5 linked regions of the Homo sapiens genome follow. The protein of the gene in region 4 purifies or fractionates together with the protein of the main gene of each other region. This does not show direct contact. Each region holds a gene or a part of one and is shown on either strand. Other genes may lie near its edges.

Region 1 (4,774 bases), on a different chromosome or scaffold from region 4:
CTTTTCTTCTTCTTTGAGACACAGTCTTGCACTTTCGCCTGGGCTGGAGTGCGGTGGCGCGATCTTGGCTCACTGTAACCTCCGCCTCTCGGATTCAAGCAATTCTCCTGCCTCAACCCCCGAGTAGCTGGAATTACAGGCGCCTGCCACCACGCCCGGCTAATTTTTTGTACTTTTAGCAGGGACAGGGTTTCACCATGTTAGCCAGGCTGGTCTCGAACTCCTGACCTTGTGAGTCGCCGGCGTCGGCCTCCCAAAGTGCTGGGATTACAGGTGTGAGTCACCGTGCCTGGCCAATGATCCCATCTCTTTTTTTCCTTCTCCAAGAAGCAGGAATTACAGGCATTTTCTAATATGCATTTCTCCAAATATCAGTAAAAATAGCCCATCTTCATAAAGCATCTGCAGATGCAAATTCAATGTTCTATCTAGTTCTTTAATTTACTAGAAAATCCAAGTTTCTTTAGATGTATTTTGTATATTTTATATGAACCTTAATGAAGTCAAAGTATGTAAATATTTTATCTTTAGGGTTTACTTAAATTTTTTTATTTCTACCAACTGTAATGATTTTTTTTACTAGATTCCCTTCTGTACTGTTTGAACTCTATGCTATGTGCAAAGGCACTACTTTTCAAAATAATCAAAATCAGTAACACAACAGGAAATATAGCCAATACCTCAAATAAAACCCTTCCCACCATACGCCCTCTCCTACACACTCATATCTCCCAACACAAAACTAAAAGCACTTTTAATATTTCTTCAAAACTTCTTTCAATTCTACCTGGTTGTAAGTGTGATGTATATTTAGTACATCACTCTATCATAATAACTTAGAAGTGCTAATCTAAGTAAATTTGGAGCCTTTATAATTACCACTTTTATGAGCTACATAATAGACTTAAGTGGATGCCTAATCCTTTTGTCTGATATAACTAATGTTTACATTGAATGTTTCCAGAATTTAAACAAAATAAGTGCTTGGAAGAGAAGCAATCCATAAGCCTGGTGCCCTTAACAACCTTGTCTGCACCATCTACACAGAACTAAACTCTTCCTGTATGTTAGATCCTAAACTGGAACCAGAATAGTCCTTAACTTTTTTTTTTTTTTTTTGAGACGGAGTCTCGCTCTGTCGCCCAGGCTGGAGTGCAGTGGCAAGATCTCGACTCACTGCAACCTCCACCTCTGAGCTTCAAGCAATTCTCCTGCCTCAGCCTCCCGAGTAGCTGGGACTATAGGCACCCGCCACTACGCCCGGCTAATTTTTTGTATTTTTCGTAGAGACGGGGTTTCACCATGTTGGTTAGGCTAGTCTCGATCTCTTGACCTCGTGATCCACCTGCCTTGGCCTCCCAAAGTGCTGGGATTACAGGCGTGAGCCACCGCGCCTGGTCTAATTCTTGTATTTTTAGTAGACAGTAGACTTTAGATTTTACCATGTTGGCCAGCTGGTCTTAAACTCCTGACATCAAGTGATCTGCCCACCTCGGCTTCCCAAAGTGCTGGGATTACAGGTGTGAGCCACTGCGTCCGGCCATCCTTAACAATTCTGAATCTTCCTGGGGACAAGTAAACCTTAGGTTTCCATTAAAGTATACATCTGCCAGGCCAGTGGCTCATGCTTGTAATCCTAGCACTTTGGGAGGCCAAGGTGGGAAGATCACTTGAGCCCAGGAGTTGGAGATCAACATGGCAAAACCCTGTCTCTATAAAAAATAGAAAAATTAGGCAGGTGTGGTAACACGTACCTGTAGTCCCAGCTACCTGGGAGGCTGAGATGGGAGGACCACCTGAGCCTGGGAGGTCAAGGCTGCAGTGACCAGTGATTGCACCACTGCACTCCAGCCTGGGCAACAGAGTGAGACTCTATATCAAAAAAATAAAGTATACATCTGGCAGGGTGCAGTGGCTCACGCTTGTAATCCCAGCACTTTGGGAGGCTGCGGCACGCAGATCACTTGAGGTCAGGAGCGCGAGACCAGCCTGGGCTAACATGGCGAAACCCCGCCTCTACTAAAAATACAAAAAATTAGCCGAGCATGGTGGCACATGCTTGTAATCCCAGCTACTAAGGAGGCTGAGGCAGGAGAATTGCTTGAACCCAGGAGGCGAAGGTTGCAGTGACCTAAAATCGTGCCATTGCACTCCAGCCTAGCCAACAATAGTGAACTCTGTCTCAAAAAATAAAGAAATTTTTAAATAAATAAATATACATCTGATATCAGAGACCTTCAATTTCAAAAAATTTAGGTCAACTACTATACAATCCAGCAATCCCACTACTGAGATTTATCCAAAGGAAAGGAAATCCATATACCACAGGGATGCCTGCACCCCATGTTTACTGCAGCACTGTTCTCAATAGCAAAGATATGGAATCAATCTAAGTGTCCATCAACAGTTGAATGGATAAAGAAAATGTAATATAGATACACAATGGAGTACTTTTTTTTTTTTTTTTTGAGACAGAGTCTCGCTCTGTCACCCAGACTGGAGTGCAGTGGCACGATCTCGGCTCACTGCAAGCTCCACCTCCCAGGTTCACGCCATTCTCCTGCCTCAGCCTCCCAAGTAGGTGGGTCTACAGGCGCCCGCAACCACACCCAGCTAATTTTTTTTTTTTTTGTATTTTTAGTAGAGACAGGGTTTCACCGTGTTAGCTAGGATGGTCTCGATCTCCTGACCTCGTGATCCGCCCGCCTTGGCCTTCCAAAGTGCTGAGATTACAGGCGTGAGCCACCGCATCCGGCCTGGAGTACTATTTGGCCACGTAAAAAAATGAAATCATGTCATTTGCAGCAACGTGGAAGGAAATGGAGGTCATTATGTGAAGTCAAGTAAGACAGGCAGAGAAAGACAAATATCACGTTTTTACTCTTATGTGGGAGCTAGAAAAGTGGATCTAATGGAGGTAGAGAATAGAGCGATTGATATCAGAGGCTGGGAAGCATCAGGAGGGTAAAGAGCACGGTTAATGGTTAGAAATATGCAATGAGCGGTGGCTCACGCCTGTAATCCCAGTACTTTGGGAGGCCCAGGTGGGCGGATCACCAGGTCAGGAGTTCGAGACCAGCCTGGCCAACATGGTGAAACCCTGTCTCTAGTAAAAATACAAAAATTAGCTGGGCATGCTGGCATGTACCTGTAATCCCAGCTATCAGGAGGCTGAGGCAGGAGAATGGCATCAACCCGGGAGGCAGAGCTTGCAGCGAGCTGAGATCGCGCCACTGCACTCCAGCCTGGGCAAGAGACAGAGACTATGTCTCAAAAAAAAAAAAAAAAAAAAAAAGATAAATATGGAGGTGACAGACACCCCAACTTGATCATTACAGTGTATGCCTGTAACAAAATACCACATGTACCCATCCCATGAATATGTACAAATATTTCTATCAATTAAAAAGAAACAGCTCAGGCTAGGGGCAATGGCTCATGCCTGTAATCCCAGCACTTTGGGAGGCCAAGGCGGGTGGATCACGAGGTCAAGAGTTTGAGACCAGCCTGGCCAACGTGACAAAACCCCATCTCTATTAAAAATACAAAAATTTAGCCGGAGTGGTGGCAGGCGCCTGTAATCCCAGCTAAGTGGCTGAGGGAGTCTGAGGCAGGAGAATTGCTTGAACCCGGGAGGCAGAGACTGCACTGAGCCGAGATCGTACCACTGAACTCCAGCCTGGGCCACAGAGCGAGACCCTGTCACACACACACACACACAAAAAAAAAAAAAAAACCAGGTCAAAAAGCAGATTCAAAGCAACATGCATGCAAATTATAACATTTATCTATAATCAAGTATGTATTACATACATTTTAATTTACATATTAAATATTTAATTATCTCTTAATGATATTAATGGATGGGGGGATTACAAGGGCTCCTTATTTTTCTTATTTTATCTACTAGTATTTTACCTACTAGTTTTAGTTTCTTTTTAGTTTTTCGAGACAGTTTCACCCTTGTCGTCCAGGCTGGAGTGCAATGGCAAGATCTCAGCTCACTGCAACCTCTGCCTCCCAGGTTCAAGCGATTCTCCTGCCTCGACCTCTGAAGTACCTGGGATTATAGGCGCCTACCACCACACCCAGCTAATTTTTGTATTTTTAGTAGAGATGGGGTTTCACCATGTTGGCCAGGCTGGTCTCCTGATCTCAGATGATCCACCCGCCTTGGCCTCCCAAAGTGTTGGGATGACAGGTGTGAGTTACCGCGCCAGGCCAGTTTCTTTTAAAACAATGAACATCTATAAAAATAATTTAGCTTCACTGGGCGCCATAGCTCATGCCTATCATCCCAGCACTTTGGGAGGCCGAGGTGGGCGGATCATGCGGTCAGGAGATCAAGACCATACTGGCTAACACGGTGAAACCTCATCTCTAATAAAAATACAAAAAAATTAGCCGGGAGGGGTGGCGGGCGCCTGTAGTCCCAGCTACTCAGGAGGCTGAGGCAGGAGAATGGCATAAACCCGGGAGGCGGAGCTTGCAGCGAGCCAAGATCACGCCACTGCACTCCAGCCTGGGTGACAGAGCGAGACTCCATCTCAAAAAAAAAAAAAAATTTAGCTTCTACCCCAATATGATCTCAATTGTGTACTTTTATAGACAGTCACCTGTGTGTCTATGTCTGTGTTAAAAAAGGTCTGGGCCAGGTGCGGTGGCTCACATCTGTAATCCCAACACTTTGGGAGGCTGAGGCAGGTGGATCACTTGAGGTCTGGTGTTCGAGACCAGCCTAGTCAACACGGCGAAACCCCGTCTCTACTAAAAA
Region 2 (4,284 bases), on a different chromosome or scaffold from region 4:
ATATATGTATTTATATATACACACATACAATGTATATATGAAATCCTTATACAGGTGTAAACATTCTTAATAAATTATAAGCAATAAAATAAAAAAAATTTAGTATGTTTGCTTTTTAAAATAAAACAAATTCATACTTTATCAAAATTTGTTCATTCTTCTCACAAATAATTCTGTTGGTACATAATTTTCTCTCATGCTAATTCAACAAACCCTGAGCTTTGTTTCTCCATCTATGGCTAAATACATATCACTCTAACCAAATAAAAAGGTTTAAAATAAGGGCCCTGCATCTTGGTGTCTGGTTATTTGAAATCCGGTTTTCATTTTGAATAGTTTTGGTTAAGTGTATGTCATGGCAGAATGTCCCTTCATCTCCTTTGATCTGTGTTAAATTGATAAAAATACATGCTTACTCCTGTACAAACATCGAACAATGTAATTAAATCATCACTACTTGAAATACTTTTACATGAATAATTTATCTCTTTACACTGTTGAAGCCTTGCATTTCAGTATGTTCTACAGCTTCTGTATCATCACCTGAAATTTGCCTAAAAAAAAAAATACAAATAATTCTTTGATTTTAGATACAAAGAAAACAAGTCTAAACATCAATTTTCTGTTCCATATAGGAAATAGTTTCAGTCAAGAAATCTGCTATGTCAAAAACTTTTTCGCATTCTTCATAATATTCAATAAAGTCAATTCTATTTTTTCTTTTTTTTTGAGATGGAGTCTTGCTCTGTTGCCCAGGCTGGAGTGCAGTGGCACGATCTCTGCTCACTGCAACCTCCACCTCCTGGGTTCAAGTGATTCTCCTGCCTCAGCCTCCTGAGTAGCTGGGACTACAGGCGTCTGTCACCACGCCCAGCTAATTTTTGTATTTTTAGTAGAGACAGGGTTTCACCTTATTGGCCAGGCTGGTCTCAAACTCCTGACCTCATGATACGCCCACCTCGGCCTCCCAAAGTGCTGAGCTTACAGGTGTGAGGCACCACACCCGGCCAGTCAATTCTATTTTTATGGGATGATTATATGGTTTGTTGAGTAAGCACTTTTGTTTCTCTTTATGAATCCTACATTTGGGTACAGTATTTCATGGCTAATGATCATTGTAAATTGAAAAGAAATACAATAAAGCTCAAGTCCATTTTTTCTTGGTTGGTAGCTCTGGTGAAAAGATCTTTAGGGAGACATTTAGTGATAAAAGAATATTTGGTTTTACTTAGCTTGATATAATAGACATATCCTAAACAATTGTTTAAAAATAGCATTTTCGGGCCGGGCGCGGTGGTTCATGCCTGTAATCCCAGCACTTTGGGAGGCCGAGGCAGACGGATCACAAGGTCAGGAGATGGAGACCATCCTGGCTAACACGGTGAAACCCATCTCTACTAAAAATACAAAAAATTAGCTGGGCGTGGTGGCAGGCAACTGTAGTCCCAGCTACTCGGGAGGTTGAGGCAGGAGAATGGCGTGAACCCGGGAGGTGGAGCTTGCAGTGAGCCGAGATTGTGCCACTGCACTCCAGCCTGGGCAACAGAGCGAGACTCCGTCTCAAAAAAAAAAAAAAAAAAAAAAAATAGCATTTTCAATGTTCTAGGGAAATTTGCTATCTTAAAACACTGCAGGAGATATTCAGAAGAATATCTTTAAAAAAGTTACAGTTTGAATAACTTTAGAAAAGTTAAAAATCATCCCTTAAATTGTCTTATAAATTTGGATTTTAGTCCATTATTCAAAAATTACTGAAAATGAATGTAGTATGCTACATATTACTACACTAAAGTGTTACATTGATAAAACTAAAATGAAAGTTTCAGCATTTTAAATTTCCTCTCAGTTAAATTAAAAAAAAAAACAGACCTGAAAACAAATTACTAAAACATTTGTAAGAAAGGCGAATTCAACTTACAAGCAGGCATTGAAGACACTTCAGCTGTTACAATACTTTTTATTCCCAAGTTTGATAAGCCACCTCTGATTAAGCCACACGTAAATGCTAAATACTAAAAGGAAAAAAAATCATTAAAAATAGTAAGGATTTACTAAAATAGTAAAGCTATTGATAAATACAACATTACATGATTTATCATCAGTAAGTCATTCCTGTTTAAAAAAAGGATTTTGAAGAACTGTTCAAATTACTGAAAAATATTGATATATTTCCCAGCTCCCTGGAAACTAAAGCATGGACGTAGGACTTAAGACTTAAGCTCAGCCAATTAAGTACTCCAGTCCAGGACTGTGAATCTAGACTCAGTGACAAAAACAAGCCAGAAACTGATCAGAATTAGTTCTGGAGGCAGTAAAGGTAGTTTGTGTCTACAGTCCCTGCTGCCTGCAGGATTCTAAGTAGATACAGTCTGCAGAGTGACTTGGCTATCTTACTGGCTGCCTTAACCTCCCCTGGTTATTGCCTATTCTTTGAGCTTATCAATTTTGTTAGCTTACAAGCAGAATTTCTTTCCCCTATTTACAACCAAGAATCTTGACTTGTTCAAGACTTATAGCTTGCCACAACAAAGAATTATCTGGTTGAAAGTATCAACAGTTTGGACGTTGAGAAACCCTGTCATATAGAAACAAAGAAAGGGAATAGGGCTGAGCTACAAAACCAAAAGTCATGACAAGAACTGGATTGAAAAATTAGCAATTCAGGGAATTTTTGATTACCCACATCTATACTGCATGATGTTCAACATACTACATTATCTACGAATAATATAAAATATTATCTTATAAATAATATACATAAATGGGCACTAATAAGTAACTAGATCTGAGTCATGAAATTTTAAGCTGGAAGAGGCCTTAGAGATTGTTCATCCCAAGAGTTCTTAATCGGGGAATTTGTGACCCCTATGAAAATAAAAACCATGTATATGTGCGTATTTATGGGGAAAGGTGTTCCAGTTCTCAAAGATGTCCATAACTCAAAATAGTTAGAAATCACTGAATTGGTCCAACTTACTCTTTTCACAGCTGAAGAAACCAAGATCCCAAAAAGTTAAGTGAGAACCAGAAATATTAAACTAAGAAGTTAGTAAAAAAGAGAAAATATGCCAGGCATGGCCTATAATCCCAGCACTTTGGGAGGCTGTAATCCCAGCATTTTGGGTGGCTTTTGTAATCACGTCTGTAATCCCAGCACTTTGGGAGGCTGTAATCCCAGCATTTTGGGTGGCTTTTGTAATCACGTCTGTAATCCGAGCACTTTGGGAGGCTGAGGTGGGTGGATCACGAGGTCAGGAGTTTGAGACTAGCCTCGCCAACATGGTGAAACCCTGTCTCTACTAAAGATACAAAAAATTAGCCAGGCATGGTGGCGCACACCTGTAATCCCAGCTACTCAGGAGGCTGAGGCAGGAGAATCACTTGAACCCAGGAGGCAGAGGTTGCAGTGAGTCTCACACTCTGTCCGAAAAAAAAAAAAAAGAGAGAAAATATACACATTAACCATAAAAATGTAATTAGAGCCTGGATACCCCAAAAATATAGAAAATAGGCAATCAGGCCGGATGCAGTGGCTCACACCTGTAATCCCAACACACTGGGAGGCCGAGGTGAGGTGATCACTTGAGCCCAGGAGTTCAAGACGAGCCTGGGCAACATCGTGGGATCCCATCTCTAAAAAATTTTTTTAAAAATTAGCCAGGCATGGTGGCCCACACCTGCAGTCCTACCTCCTTGGGTGACTGAAGTGGGAGGATCACTTGAGCCCGGGGGGGTCAAGGTCAAGATAGGCCATGATTGTACCACTACACTCCAGCCTAGATGACAGAGCAAGACCTTGTCTTAAAAAAAAAAAAAAAGTGATCTACCATACATCTACATTTCACTGTCATTTAGTTATAGTGTTTCTTTTTTTTCTTTTTTTTTTTTTTTGAGATGGAGTTTTGCTCTTATACCCCAGGCTGGAGTGCAATGATAGCACGATCTCAGCTCACTGCAACTTCTGCCTCCCGGGTTCAAGTGATTCTCCTGCCTCAGCCTCCCGAATAGCTGGGATTGCAGGCGCTCGCCAGAACGTCCAGCTATTTTTCATATTTTTAGTAGAGAAAGGGTTTCCCCATGCTGGCCAAGCTGGTCTTGAACTCTTGACCTCAGGTAATCCACCTGCCTTGGCCTCCCAAAGTGCTGGGATTACAGGCGTGAGCCATAGCGCCCGGCCAGTGTTTCTTTAATTGGTCACTCTATGACTATTTAGCTACAGTTTAGTGTTATTGTAACATGTCTCTCATTTCATAGAAAACTCTTTAAACAAAAAAGAACACCTTA
Region 3 (4,724 bases), on a different chromosome or scaffold from region 4:
CACTGGTCTGGCCAGTTCTAGCATCACGTGACCTCACAGTCACTGACAAAGTGTCACACACAGGTGCACGAAGGCAAACACTCACACCAAGCCACACACATGAATGATGCGATTGGGCATTCCAATCACAGTCACTCATGCAGCACCGACACATGCTCGGCCGCAGGCACTGTCGCTGGAGCCACACATAGTATCATAAGGCACACAGGGCCACACACAACTGCAAACATGGTCTCAGTTACCCCTGAGTTCCAACACACTCCTAATCTCCCGGAGTCTCACTGCTGCCACCTGGTGATGCACACTCATCCATGGTCTCATATGCACCGCAATGCAATTGCTCAGTGACAGGGTCAGACTCACCCACAGCCCTGTGTACAGAGGCAGATGGCTAGATACACACACACCCAGTTACACAAACAGAAACACACCCCCGTTCACAGCCCCACCAGGCAGGGATGGCCACCTTACCTCCTGCCAGGTGTCCAGTAACATGATGTCATACTTGTCCAGGTCCTCCTGGCTGAAGAACCCCACTTCTGCGAGGACCAGGCAGCCCATGTGGCTGGAGCACTCAAACAGTCGTGGCTGGAAGCTGGGGACCTCCTCAGGGAGCCTGGCCAGCACGGACAGCAAGGCTGTGAGCCACCCAGAGGGGCACCCCAGCCCATGGCACAAGTGCCCCACCCCAGGGCCTGGGAAGCCACTTCTCAGGAGTGGGAGCCCTGGGCCCTCCTCTGAGCCCCGTGGTTTCTCCCCGAGCACTCCGCTCTGCTCTGGGTACAGGGTCCCTCTCTGCTCATGGAGAAAGCTCTCGCCCCACCCAGCTGTGACGCAAGGTGCCCCATGAATTTCCCTAGGAGAGGGCTGCAGGGGTAGGGGAGGGCCTGAGCTGGAGTCTCGCCCTCCCTGGGATGGGAGGAGCTCCTCAGCCCACCCCTGGCAGAGAGTAGGTCTCCGGCCCAAAGTGGAAGGAGGCAAGCCAGGCTGGGAGAAGGAGACGGGAGTACTGAGCTCAGGAGAATTGTGGGGAGTGCAGCACATAAACCAAGCCCCACAGGCAGACCAAGAGCGACCAGGACTCAGCTCCCTCCTCCCCTTGAGGCCTCACTCCTACCTCCTACACACACCCTGTCCACTTACACACCACACACAACACCCTGAATACACCTGTTCTTGCACATCCACACACACTGTATACCCACACATCATATGACACTGTATACACACACACTGGGCACCGTGATCCCTGAGGACTGTAGGGTGGGGAAGGGTGCTTTGTCCCCTGGCCCAGGACCAGGACAATGCAGGGAGGGGATGCTGCCAGCAGAGGTCGCCACTGCCCCCACTCTCCCCAGCATCTGAGAGACGCAAGTTACCCAGGCCTGGGAGCGAAGCGTGGGCTGTACTTGTGGGAGCCTCTGTGAGTGGGAAACTGAGAGTCCTTGGTTCTAGTCTCGTCTTGCCAGCTCTCTGTGTGAATCCCAGTCACCCACCCTCCTCTCTGGGCCTCAATTCCTCCTCTGGGTAAGAACACTCTCCTCCCAACCCTGTTACCTCTTGTTGCTGGGGTAGGGGGCCCGGCCTCCCAGGGCCTCCCAGAAGTGGGGAGGCTCCTGACCCTCCAGCACCGTTTCCTCATTCTTCCTGGAAATGACAGTGACCACCACCCGTGCCATCTCACGCTGATCACCATTACAGCCCTAGCAGGCAAAGAGATGGCTCAGGCCCTGCATGAGGAGGGGCCTTCACCTCCGGCCCCACGTCCCGTTCACAGGGTGTATGGGGTGGGGCTGGGCCCAAGTCACAGGAGGCCTAAGCTGACAGCAGGACACCAGTGAACAAGGCATCTTCCTCACCCTACAGGCCTGTGTCCCCAGTTGATCTGGATCGCAGGGTCTGGGACCCTCGCAGGGTCCAGAGCATGGGATAGGAGGCCCCCAGGCTTAGAGGGTCAGTCATAGTTTATGCTGAATATTAGAGAAAACTCCAGCAAACTGGCATAGGCCTCCCCTTTTCCCAAGAGACCTGGGAAGGGACATGCCCTGTGCTCCAGGCAGTAAGGAGGGGAGGCGGCCTGGGCCTGGCTCTGACCTGCGGACTCTCAGGTCCACCTGTCACTTTGTAACTTTCCCCAAGTTCTAGAGGGGACCCTGTGGCTTCTTCCCCTCCCCATTCCCCCCATCGGCCTATCTGAGGCTGGACTCAAAGTCTGCATGCCCTGTGGAGAGGACCCACCCCCAGCCTGGCACCACTACATCTGGGCATGAATCAAGTGGTCAGTGCTGTGGGTACCTTCCCAAACCAGAGGTAGCAGACGCTGGCTGTGACCAGCAAGAAGATGTCACTGGAGTTGAGGGATGAGGCACGGGCTGGCACCTCCATGGTCCTGGTGTTGTGGCTGTCAGTGCCTTGCACTTGGAAAAGCCTTGTGGTGGATGCTGACTGCCCCTTTCCATGGTGCCCAGCTCTCTCCTATAGGAGAGCAAGGCCTCAGGCTGGGCAAGGGCTCCCAGGGGCGCCTTCCTGTCCCAGTGTGGGACATATTGCCTCAGAGCTCAGGGACCCTTGCTTGAAGCCATCAAGGCCCTCACTGGTGATTTCACATGAGGAGTACAGGACCCTCTAAGTGTGGAGTGCAGGAATCCCATCAGTCTGGGACAGGGACAGACCCTTTTTAAATGGACCTTTCCCCCCATCTCTGAGTGGTTGGGGCATGGGTGCTCAGGCCTTGGAGGTGGAAAGTGGGGACCAGGTTTGCTAGTGTGCAGCCCCAGGCAAGCCCCTGGCTCCCTTTCAACTCAAATTCCTCATCTGGCTCTGGGACTGGGGAGGGAAACTCAGGCAGGGGGCCAACCTTGGAGCTCCTGGGCCTTGGACAAGCTCTGGGAAACTAGGGGATGATAAGCAGGCCCCAGGCCCAAAGAGAAGGTGCTTAGAAGTGTGTGCGGGGGCCATGGCCCATGCAGAACTGGGCAGGCTGTGGCCAGAGTGGCAAGGTGAGACCTACCTGGAAGATCACCAGCTGGCCCTGGAAGATGGCGAGGAAGTGGGGGGGCTCGCTGCCCATGGTCACATGCTCCTGTACTAGGACGCCACCATACATGACATCTAGTTCCTCAGCGTTGCTGTTCAGGGCCTCAATCTCATCCGCAGTGGCCTGGTGGCCCTGCAGGTGGGGGCAGTGAGTGAGGGCCTGGCCCAGCTCTCACATTTCACTCCCAGAGCCCAGCCCTTGGGCTTTAAGGTGAGTGCTGCCTCCCTCAGGCTGGCACACCTGCCATAGGTACAGGATGTACTGGACACGGCCCAGCCTCTGGTATGTGTAGAGCACAAGGTAGCAGTTGCCTGCACACAGCTGTCCATGACGCTTGGGGTCCACGGGCTGCCTGTGTAAGTCCTGGATGCACCACACCTGGGGAATAAGGGACCAATGGGCACAGGTGGCTGCTCTTCCTGAACCAGCCCACCCATCCTGTACCCAACCGGAAAGCTCTCCCCAGCCTCTGAGGCCTTCCTCATCCACGCAGGCCAGGGGCCCACCCTCAGCTCCAGGCCCATTCTGGGCCTTGTGCTGGGCTTTGTACAAGGATCTGCAGGTGACCCTTTCCCCACGGACCCCTGAAACCCACCACACTTGGGAGATGGGCCCAATCCCAGCCACATGCCCAGCCCTAGTCCCAACCCCACCAGCCACAACCCTGGTTAGGGGCAGTTCAGTCCCCTCCCAGCTGCTCGCTGCTCAGGCCAGGGCAACAGAAGCCGGGCGGAAAGGGAAGCCTTGGAGCTCTTGAATGAATTCCCTTTTATCCAGTGTCATTTAGAAAACACAAAGCCTGTTCAAAGACTGAAGGGGAAACACTGTCTCACATCTGTCAGTGTAGTTTCTTCTTCCTGTGGGTGGCAGAGCCTGGAGCCAGGCGGACTCTGGTCAAATCCCAGGTAGGCCCTGTGTTGGCAGTGACATTGTTCTAAGCTTCGGGCCTTTCCCACCTGTATATTGGGGATGATGACGCCTCCCTTACCTCACCTCTGCATGGCAGGAGACAATGCCTGGGTGTCCTTTCCCACACTGACCCTGACAGTTGTCCCTGGGGAGCCGACCTCCAGACCAGAGCAGCCAGAGCCCTGTCTTTCACAAAAGTGGCTGACTTGACTACAGGCCACCTAACAGTGGCAATTACCGGGCAGCCAGGACCCCTGGCTCAGGCCCTGTCTCTGCCTGCCTGTCCACTGCCTACCAGGAGGGATCCTGTCCCTGACTTTGTGCTTGGCACCTGAGTCCCAGGGCTCTCTTTCCCTCCGTCCCTCGCCTTTCCTTCTGCTTTCCTGTCTCCCTCTCCCACTGTCTGGCTCTCTGTCTCTCTCTGTGTATCCCATCTATCACTGACCCTCCCTCTCTTCTCCCTGTACCCCCTCTCTCCCTGCTCTTCCTCCACCCCACCTCCTCCTCCCTTCCCTCTGCCTCCTCCTCATCCCCTGTCCTTCCCAGTCTTTTCTTCTCTGTCTCTCTTTGTGCTCCTTCCCTGTCTTCCTCTTTCCCTGTCTCCCCCTTCTTCCCCCTTGCCCCATCTCCTCCTCTCTCAGTCTCTTCCCACTCATCACTTCTGTCCATCCATATTAGGGCAAAGGAAGAAGGAAATCTTGCCTTTTCTCTGACCTCCACCTACCTCGAGAACTAGGACCCCTCGCATAGGCCCAGCAGTTCTGTTCCCACAAGACCA
Region 4 (3,500 bases):
CTGACCCAGTTTTAACCAATAGTTTTTACCTAGTCCCTAAAATATGCAAGGATCAAAATGGCTGATCTGGGTTTAATCCTTTCCTGTGTATGTGGGTGTGCAGTATGTGGATGCGCAGGGACTGACCTGCACCTGTACGTGGGTGTGTATGTGCATGTGAGGTGTGTGGGTGTGTAATGTGTACGTGTGGGTGTGATGTGTGGGGTGACGTGTGTGTGGGGCTGTGATAGGTGTATGTGGGGGGTGATCTGTAGGTGTGTGTGTGGGTATGCAATGTGTAGGTGTGTGATGTGTGCATGTATGTGTGGGTGTGTGTGGGGTGATGTGTAAGTGGTGATCTATGTGTGGGGGGGTGGGCAATGTGTGTGTGGGGGGTGATCTGTGCGTGTGGGTAACTGTGTGGGGTGATTGTGTATGTGTGTGATTGTGGGTGACTGGGTGTGCAATGTGTGTGCATGGGGGTGATCTGTGTGTGTGTGGGTATGCCTGTGTGGGGTGACTGTGTATTTAAGGGTGTGTGATATGTGTAGGGGGTGATTGTGTATGGATGTGTGATGTGTGTGGGGTGATTGTGTATGTGGGTGTGTGATGTGTGGGGGGTGATTGTGTGTGGTTGTGTGATGTGTGGGGGGTGATTTTGTGTGGGTGTGTGATTGTGTGGGGTGATTGTGGGGGTGTGTGATGTGTGTGGGGTGATTGTGTGTGGATGTGACTGTGTAGGGTAATTGTATGCGTGGGTGGGTGTGTGATGTGCGTGTCGGGTGATTGTGGTGTGTGGTGATTGTGTATGTGATGTGTGTGTGGGGTGACTGGGTGTGAGGTGTAGGGGTGTGACTGTGGGTGTGCAATGAGTGTGCGTGGGGGTGATCTGTGCGTGTCTATGTGTGGGGTGACTGTGTATGTGTAGGTGTGTGGGGGGTGATTGTGTGGGTGTGTGAGATGGGGGGTGAATGGATGTGCAATGTGTGTGCGTGGAGGTGATTGTGTGTGTGGGGTGATTGTGTACGTATAGGTGTGTGATGTGTGTGGGGGGGGTGACATATGTATATGCCATAAAACTCTCCCCCAGTGGGAAATGTTACAGGACAAATGACCTGCTTTTTTGGGGTTTTTTTGAGATGGAGTCTCACTCTATTGCCCAGGCTGGAGTGCAGTGGCATGATCTTGGCTCACTGCAACCTCTGCCACCCAGGTTCTAGCAATTCTCCTACCTCAGCCTCCCGAGTAGCTGGGATTGCAGGAGCCTGCCAACGTGCCCGGCTAATTTTTGTATTTTTAGTAGAGATGGGTTTTCACCATCTTGGCCAGGCTTGTCTTGAACTCCTGACCTCGTGATCCACCTGCCTCAGCCTCTCAAAGTGTTGAGATTACAGGCGTGAGCCACTGCACCTGGCCAACCTGTTTTTTTTGTTTGTTTGTTTGTTTTTTTAAGACAGGGTCTTCCTCTGTTGCCTAGGCTGAAGCACAGTGCCGCAATCACAGCCCAGTGCAGCCTTGACCTCCCAGGCTCAAATGGTCCTCCCATCTCAGCCTCCCTAGCAGCTGGAACTACAGATATACGTCACCATGCCCAGCTAATTTTTGTATTTTTTGTAGAGACGGGGTCTCACTATGTTGCCCAGGCTGGTCTCAAACTCCTAGGCTCTAGTGATCCCCCAACCTTGGCCTCCCAAAGTGCTGGGATTACAGGTGTGAGCCACTGTGCCCAGCCTAAATGACCTGTTTTCTTTGACAAATAAAGGCAAGCAAGAGAGGGCTAAAAAGTGAGAAGTGGCGTGGCATAGATATTACAGAGGCTTAACAGAGCTTTCAACCAATCACAAGGCATGGACTTTATTTAGATCTTGATTCCAACCAACTATAAAGCCATTTATGACATCTGAATTTGAAAACTGGATATCTGATGATAGGAAGGAGTTAGTAGCTGAGTGGTAACGGTATTGCAGTTACGTTAAAAGAGCCCATATGAGTCAGAGATCGCTAACACCAACAGGTGACACGGTGCCTGGGACTCGCTTCAATATGGTGGGAAGGGGAGAGGTGGGAGGCAGCTCCAACAGCCGCTGCGCTTCCACAGTCACTGACACTGCAGAGCAGGCGTGTGGGGGTGCATTATTTTATGCTGTTCTAGTTTTGTAAATATTTTAAATCTTCCATTAAAAAAAAAAAAAGTTAAATCAAGAACAGACATTTCGGGGGGCTGAGGTGGGATGGTCACCTGAGCCTGGGAGGCGGGGGCTGCACTCCAGCCTGGATGACAGAGCGAGACCCTCTCTCAAAACAAAGAAATCCCCCAGGCATGGTGTAGCACGTACAGAAAAGGAAAAGTCTTCATAGACGTCAATCAACAAGGACTTCAAACCAATGCAGAGTGTATGCAGGATCAAGAACCCAAACTGGTTTTTTTTTCCTTTTTAGTATGACAAAGACTCGGAACAGGAAATGCAGGTCAATCCCACTGGGGACAGGACCTAGGAGGGATGCCTGGAGGGAAACCAAGGGATACGGACTATCCGCGCCACTGTTTGGGGCACTCAGCCCAGAGAGGGCACAGCAGCGCATGGGAAGACCCAGGAGGGACCCGCGCCCTCCTCTCTGGGCCTCCCTTTGTTGTAAGAGGGGGGTAATCCCACTTCCTTCTCAAGGACACACACAAAAGCCTGCCACAGGGCATGGCCACGGGGCTCAGTAAGTGGGTCCACTTTGCTTTCTGTCTCTGGCATTATTTTTTTTAAAAAGGGGGGTACGTGGCTTACAAAGTACTTTCTAACATGTAAAGAGCACTATAATGATACAAGTGCTGACCCTCCCAATGCCACTGCAGAGGAGGTGGGAAGGCTTTCATTATCCACACCCCATCCAGCTGACAGAAACCCAAAGAGGAGGCGACCCGCCGAGACGCCCTGTGGCACAGCCACGTCTCCACCCGGCCCCCCTCAGTTCCAGCCCAGGGACTCCATCAAAGGGGCTACGTCCTCAGACAGCACTTTACGTAGGGGCCTTCCTGAGTCGCGCCACTTGCCGGCTACGCTGTGGGAAGCCAAGAACACAAAGCCCGCTGACCTGAGCCCACTTCTTGTTTCGGCTCTGCATCTGGATCGTGGCGATGGAGGCAAACAGCTCCTCGGCGGGCAGGTCCTCGGGCAGCCGGGTCAGGAACTGGGCCATGTGAATGAAGTCCATCTTGGTCAGGATGTCCTCGAACAGCTTCAGGATGCCCAGGGCCGTGCGGAACAGGAACTCTTCCCCATCGCGACAGAACACGTCCCAGATACGACAGGCCAGGTCGAGGGGCAGAGATTTACTATATAAGGTAAAGATCCTAGGGGGTAAAAGTTGGAATTTTTCAGATTTTGAATCTCTCCTAACAAAGAAAGAACAGTGAATTCCAGTCTGATTCCATGAAAAACACTCCCCTAGTCACTTTCAGGCAACAGCTGGGGCCAGGGCCAGGCCTGCACTCACACTGAAGGGTAATTCTAACATCGCTCAGGACACAG
Region 5 (5,329 bases), on a different chromosome or scaffold from region 4:
CTCCTGCTCGCGCTTCAGCCGCTGCTCGCGCCTCTCCTGCTCGTGCTTCTGCTCGTGCCTCTCCTCCTCCTGCTCGCGCCTCAGCTGCTGCTCGCGCCTCAGCTGCTGCTCGCGCCTCAGCTGCTGCTCGCGCCTCAGCTGCTGCTCGCGCCTCAGCTGCTGCTCGCGCCTCAGCTGCTGCTCGCGCCTCAGCTGCTGCTCGCGCCTCAGCTGCTGCTCGCGCCTCAGCTGCTGCTCGCGCCTCTCCTCCTCCTGCTCGCGCCTCAGCTGCTGCTCGCGCCTCTCCTCCTCCTGCTCGCGCCTCAGCTGCTGCTCGCGCCTCTCCTCCTGCTCGCGCCTCAGCTGCTGCTCGCGCCTCTCCTCCTGCTGCTCGCGCCTCTCCTGCTGCTCGCGCCTCTCCTCCTGCTGCTCGCGCCTCTCCTCCTCCTGCTTGCGCCTTAGTTGCTGCTCGCGCCTCAGCCTTTGCTGCTGCTGCTCTTCCTCCTGGCGCTCCCTCCTCAGCTCTTGCCGCTCCAGCTTCCGTAGCTGCTCTTCTTCCTCCTGGAGCTCTCTTTGCCGCTGCGGCTCCTCTTCCTGCAACTTCTCTTCTTCCTTCCGGAGCACTGTCTCGCGCTTCCTCCACTCTTTCTCTTCTTCCTCCTGGAACACTCTGTCTTGCCGCTCTCGCCTTTGCTGCTGTTTCTCCTCGCGGCCCTTCCTCCTCAGCTCCAGCAGCTCCCGCCTTCGCAGTTGCTCTTCGTCTGGAAACTCCTCAGTTTCGTGACCTTTGCAACTCTGCAGCTGCTCTTCCTCTGCACGGCGCTCTTCCCGTTCTTGCCATTCTTGCCTTTGCCGCCACAGCTCCTCGTCGCGGCGCTGCCTGTCGCGCTGTTCAAGTCGCTCTTGTTTCTCACTTTGCTCCTCTCCCTCAGCTAGCTCCCTCTCCTGTTCCTGCCTCTTCTGCCTGCGTCGTTGCCCAGGTTCTTCTTCCAGTTGTCTGTCCCGGGGCTCGAATCTCCTTTGGTCTTCTTCTTGCCTGCGATCTTGTAACAGGCTCTCCTTTCCGTCACACCGGGCTCGCTTCTCCTCATCCAGTCCCGTGGCCTGGCCGAGAGCATAGTAACAAGCTTGAGCCACTTTGAAAATAAATAGGAGGAATTCGTTGAAATCGACACGCCCATTACTGTCAAGATCCAGAAGTTCCAGGATCAGATCTACCGTCTTAGGGTCATGTGGTCTCTATAAAAATGGTGAAAACAAAAATTTTACAATGCACTATTTACAGGTGGTAAAATTATATTCACACATGATATATTTTATGCTATGCTGACATTCAAGAGACATTCAGAGCAATTAGAAAAATGTCCAGTGTGTATCAAGTTTTGTCCCCATGTAAAATGTGAACCCTCACTTTAAAGCATATATTCGTTTGAAATTTTTACATCTCGTAATTTAGTGCTGATCAAACCTAAGGAAGCAGGAAGAGAGACACAAAGTAGAATAGCAGGTAAGCCTACGCACCTTAGAGGCAGAGCCTGAGGTGAAGATTCAAAACAGCATCGTGAACTTGTGTGTAAAATTAACAAAGCTACTCAACATCAAGAAAGAATAACACAAGTTCGCTTTAATTGAGAAAGAATGAACTCATCCTTGAGAGAGATACAATAGAAATTTATGAGGATTTGCAGTAGCCATTTCTGTCTGAAGCAGCCAGTATTCTTGATTTGGTTTCTATTCCATATTAGAAAACAGAACAAAACATTTACGGGTAGCACCATTTTAATAGAGATCAGGCTGATCTCAGTTTTGAAATTTGGAAACAAATTTAAGTTCCTCCAAGTCTAGTGTGATTTGACATCTTTTGTGGTAATGTCCCATGAAGAGCTCATTCACATGGCCATGCCATCAAGTACATGAAATACTTTATTATTCAGACTACAATGTCAAGTAAGTACCTTTTGACTCAGAAATGAATGGGGGATGTAGTGTAGACCTGTTGTGGTGTAAAATGAATATAAAACCACCATTCCTTGCTCTGGTCTCCTCTGAGAATAAATCTCATAGCCTCAAGTCAATAGATCTCATTTTCTTGTTAGTTCTTACCCGAAGCACAGCTCCAAATTCCCTTTCAAGGAGGTTCTTCAGGTCTTTCTTAGTTAATGCTGCTCCATCACAATCATGAGAGACATACTGATTGAAAATTTCAGTGATGTCACAGATGCTTCTCAGAAGTGGAGACATTTTTTTTTCTTTCCTTCAAGTTCAAGTAAACCTAGAACAATAAAATAAGATCCAGAATCAAAATCCCGTTTCTGCTTTTGGGAAGGCTTCATTCACACTATTTCAGGCAGATCCCTAAATAATTTGAATTTATAGCGGTAATTTCAACCTGGACTTTCAGAGCACTTTAATATTTGAATATTGTATCAGAAAGAGAAAGAGCGATCCTGAGAAATTCCAAGCCAGGGAATCATCTTCAGACTATCCTGTTGTCAGCTTTTGATTGTCCACCCAATGTGGATTATCTATGCCCTTTTCTTCTGTCTTTCTTCCAGCTCTCCACCGTATTTCAGAGTAGAAAATTAAGAGAAGAGTGCAGAAATTAAAATTTTATATATGTCTACACACCTTCCTTTAAAGTTGAGCGAAGAGGACAGGTAAAAGCCAAAAGGTGAAGGAAGACTTGAGAGTATCTTAAAGTGGATAGAGGCCATGTCAGCAAAACAGTTGGTAGAAAATAGAACAATGAAAAGGGAATATGAATGATTCCTCAACATTACAGTCCATAAAGGATTTAGGAACTCTTATAGAATATAATTTGTAAGTCAGCAATTCTAAGATTAAATAGTACTTCTTCCTAGTCAAAAGATGGCATTGTAACATTCAGATACACAAATGCAGAAAACAGAGACTGTATATTACCTGCCTCAACTCAGATATAGTAAGATATTCGGATATTGAAGTATTGAAAGCTTCTGAGAGGTCCTTTCTAAACCAAACGGAATCCAGAAAACTGTGAATGATATTGGTTTTGTTAAACCCAAATGCATCATTGGAATCTTGGCTTTTTATAAAACATTAGCCAGCAGTAGATCAATGTTATAAGAATACATGGAATGGCTTTGCTGGTGGGATAAGTGTAGTCGTTCATCTAGCTGACTTCTTTATGTACTTCTCAACTCCAGTACCTTAAATGCTGTGACTGTATGAAGATGGCCCATATTAGGTAGAACCAATGTAAAAGAGAACAGAAGGCTGGCAAACTTTTGAGATAGCAGTTTTTAGGAAGATGAACCCTATCAGAGCCACACATGATCATCCTTGATGTGCAGAAGTATAGAGTTCAGAGCCCAAGGAGAAGGGTCATGCTTCAGTTCAAGTGATGGCTCCAACCATAAGAAGATGGGATAGAGTTAGTGATAGTTTATTTATCCCTGCAAAATACTGATACCTTCTGGCACATGGAACCTCCCCCCATATCCCAACATCTGAAATAGCTATAAAAATGGAGAATCATAAAGAAGACCACGATCCCACAGAATGGGACTTACCCACTTCACCAGAGGAAGAAGTCGACAGTGCTTGCTGACACCACAGGCAAGTGTACTGGGTAACTGGGAGCTGGGCCTTTTATAGGGGTTTTAATTGTGCCCTGGAAAGCAACTTGGGAAGGAGACACCCACTCTGTGGGATGGCCTGATTCATTCCTAACCAAGCCCAGCTCCACCTCTGTCTCCACAAATGGCTTGTTTATCTCACTATTTGCTCACGTAGCTATTTGGCACGAGGTTCACAGACCTTGCCTCCTGACAGTCAGGGTACCAGCCCCACCTAACATGGGAGGGTAGAATATTTGGCAGAATCTCCAATTTTCTTAAATTGTTAAAAGTAAATTAAATAATAAAACAAAGGTATTAAATGTTCACAATCTTAATTGATTATTACTTCATTACAAAGGAGTAAACTCTAAGCCATTTGCTTTATAAAAGATACAATCTCTAGTTTGGGATTAAGCAGAAACTTTGAAATAAAGTGATGAAAACCAATTAATTTCTCCATGGGATGTGACAGTCCATGGTGAGCTGCTCATAAGCCCTGCCAGAAGCAGTTGCTTCAATTCTAGGGCAATGAGAGAGCTGTAAAGAATTGGTTAGTTTCTTCTCTAAAAATGCAGGTGGGAAAAATTTTTACATTTGTCTCCCGGGTCTTATGATGGTTTTCCTACAGATTGGGGACTGCCTCCTCAGTAAAGTTTGGAAGGGTACCTTGGAAATATATTTTTATTAAACCGTTCATAAGAAAACTTGAAATCTGTGAAATTTCATTCTTAGAGACATTAAACCTAAATGAAGTTTGTTCATTAGTTTTCTCATTAGCATATTGATGCCCCTGGGGAAAAAGAGCTGGTGTAATGTATTATTGTAGATATAATCATCCTGCTCAGCCTAAGTTACTAATGATTATGACACCTAAACACTTGAGTCTGCTTCTCCTGGAAGTACATTGAGGTAATTGGTCATTCTAGCCCATTATATCCATCAGGGCTTTCTCAATCTGGTTGATCATTTGCAAATTTCAGTGCTGTTTTATTGTAAGGAATTGGATTTTATCCATGGTTGTCAGTGACTTCCTTCCTTACATTTCAGACTATATGAAACTTTGGTTCATAATTTATGAAGACTATTAAATGATTCAATGGCTTCTCTGCACTTTTGTCTCCTCCTTTGTCCAACAGAGGCAAGTGTTGGTTTTCTGAATTTTGAGGCAACTGAACGTCCTTCAATGGCATGAGTGAAAATTTGGAATCTAAATCTTGATGGCTATTTCTTTATGTGCAGATTGGTCTAAATGATAATGGAGTTGAACTCTATTTGCCCCCTCACTTGCTGCCATCCTAGATGTGGGGTACAGAGGAAGGTAGAAGTGACAGGGAATGGGAAGACAATTATAAGCAATGCTAATTTCTGCCTCTTAAGGACTTCAACACTGAAGTCTACAATTTAGTGGTTTTCCTAGGACTGTCAGAACTGTCACTATTTCTTGGGCTCAGTTAACAAACTTGATGTGGCAATTCCTTGGTGAAGGGTGAAGACTTCTCATTTTTCCCCTTCTTTTTAGGGTTTTATGCAGCTCTCTTACTCTTTGGATTCTGAGATAGGACCATCATAAGCACTGACCACACTGCAATCATGTGATCATGGAAGCTCACTCTCTCACAGAGGGCACTAGCCTTTTGTATGAGTGTTCTTCAAGGAATAACCTGGGCAAGGACTGCCTTATGTCTGCTTTTGTTTGTATCCTCCTGTGTGTGATCTATTGGGAAACCTCAGTTCAGGTGATGGGATGCATT

The links.
Region 1: the proteins of TBC1D14 (region 4) and RAB11FIP3 purify together in Homo sapiens (pull-down; one study listed by IntAct). This does not show direct contact.
Region 2: the proteins of TBC1D14 (region 4) and TRAPPC6B purify together in Homo sapiens (affinity purification with mass spectrometry; 2 studies listed by BioGRID and IntAct, with this or other methods). This does not show direct contact.
Region 3: the proteins of TBC1D14 (region 4) and VILL purify together in Homo sapiens (affinity purification with mass spectrometry; one large-scale study listed by BioGRID and IntAct). This does not show direct contact.
Region 5: the proteins of TBC1D14 (region 4) and TCHH purify together in Homo sapiens (affinity purification with mass spectrometry; one large-scale study listed by BioGRID and IntAct). This does not show direct contact.

The regions. Positions count from the first base shown.
Region 1 is NC_000016.10:431,550-436,323, reverse strand, and holds part of RAB11FIP3 (rab11 family-interacting protein 3), read right to left. Parts: intron 1-4,774. UniProt on the Homo sapiens protein: Downstream effector molecule for Rab11 GTPase which is involved in endocytic trafficking, cytokinesis and intracellular ciliogenesis by participating in membrane delivery. Recruited by Rab11 to endosomes where it links Rab11 to dynein motor complex.
Region 2 is NC_000014.9:39,149,828-39,154,111, forward strand, and holds part of TRAPPC6B (trafficking protein particle complex subunit 6B), read right to left. Parts: intron 2,013-4,284; coding exon 1,919-2,012; intron 555-1,918; coding exon 523-554; 3' UTR 1-522. UniProt on the Homo sapiens protein: Component of a transport protein particle (TRAPP) complex that may function in specific stages of inter-organelle traffic.
Region 3 is NC_000003.12:38,000,147-38,004,870, reverse strand, and holds part of VILL (villin-like protein), read right to left. Parts: intron 3,416-4,724; coding exon 3,278-3,415; intron 3,170-3,277; coding exon 3,011-3,169; intron 2,476-3,010; coding exon 2,296-2,475; intron 1,704-2,295; coding exon 1,558-1,703; intron 617-1,557; coding exon 472-616; intron 1-471. UniProt on the Homo sapiens protein: Possible tumor suppressor.
Region 4 is NC_000004.12:7,024,826-7,028,325, reverse strand, and holds part of TBC1D14 (TBC1 domain family member 14), read right to left. Parts: intron 3,323-3,500; coding exon 3,064-3,322; intron 1-3,063. UniProt on the Homo sapiens protein: Plays a role in the regulation of starvation-induced autophagosome formation.
Region 5 is NC_000001.11:152,111,861-152,117,189, forward strand, and holds the start of TCHH (trichohyalin), read right to left. Parts: upstream 3,585-5,329; 5' UTR 3,531-3,584; intron 2,252-3,530; 5' UTR 2,221-2,251; coding exon 2,083-2,220; intron 1,219-2,082; coding exon 1-1,218. UniProt on the Homo sapiens protein: Intermediate filament-associated protein that associates in regular arrays with keratin intermediate filaments (KIF) of the inner root sheath cells of the hair follicle and the granular layer of the epidermis.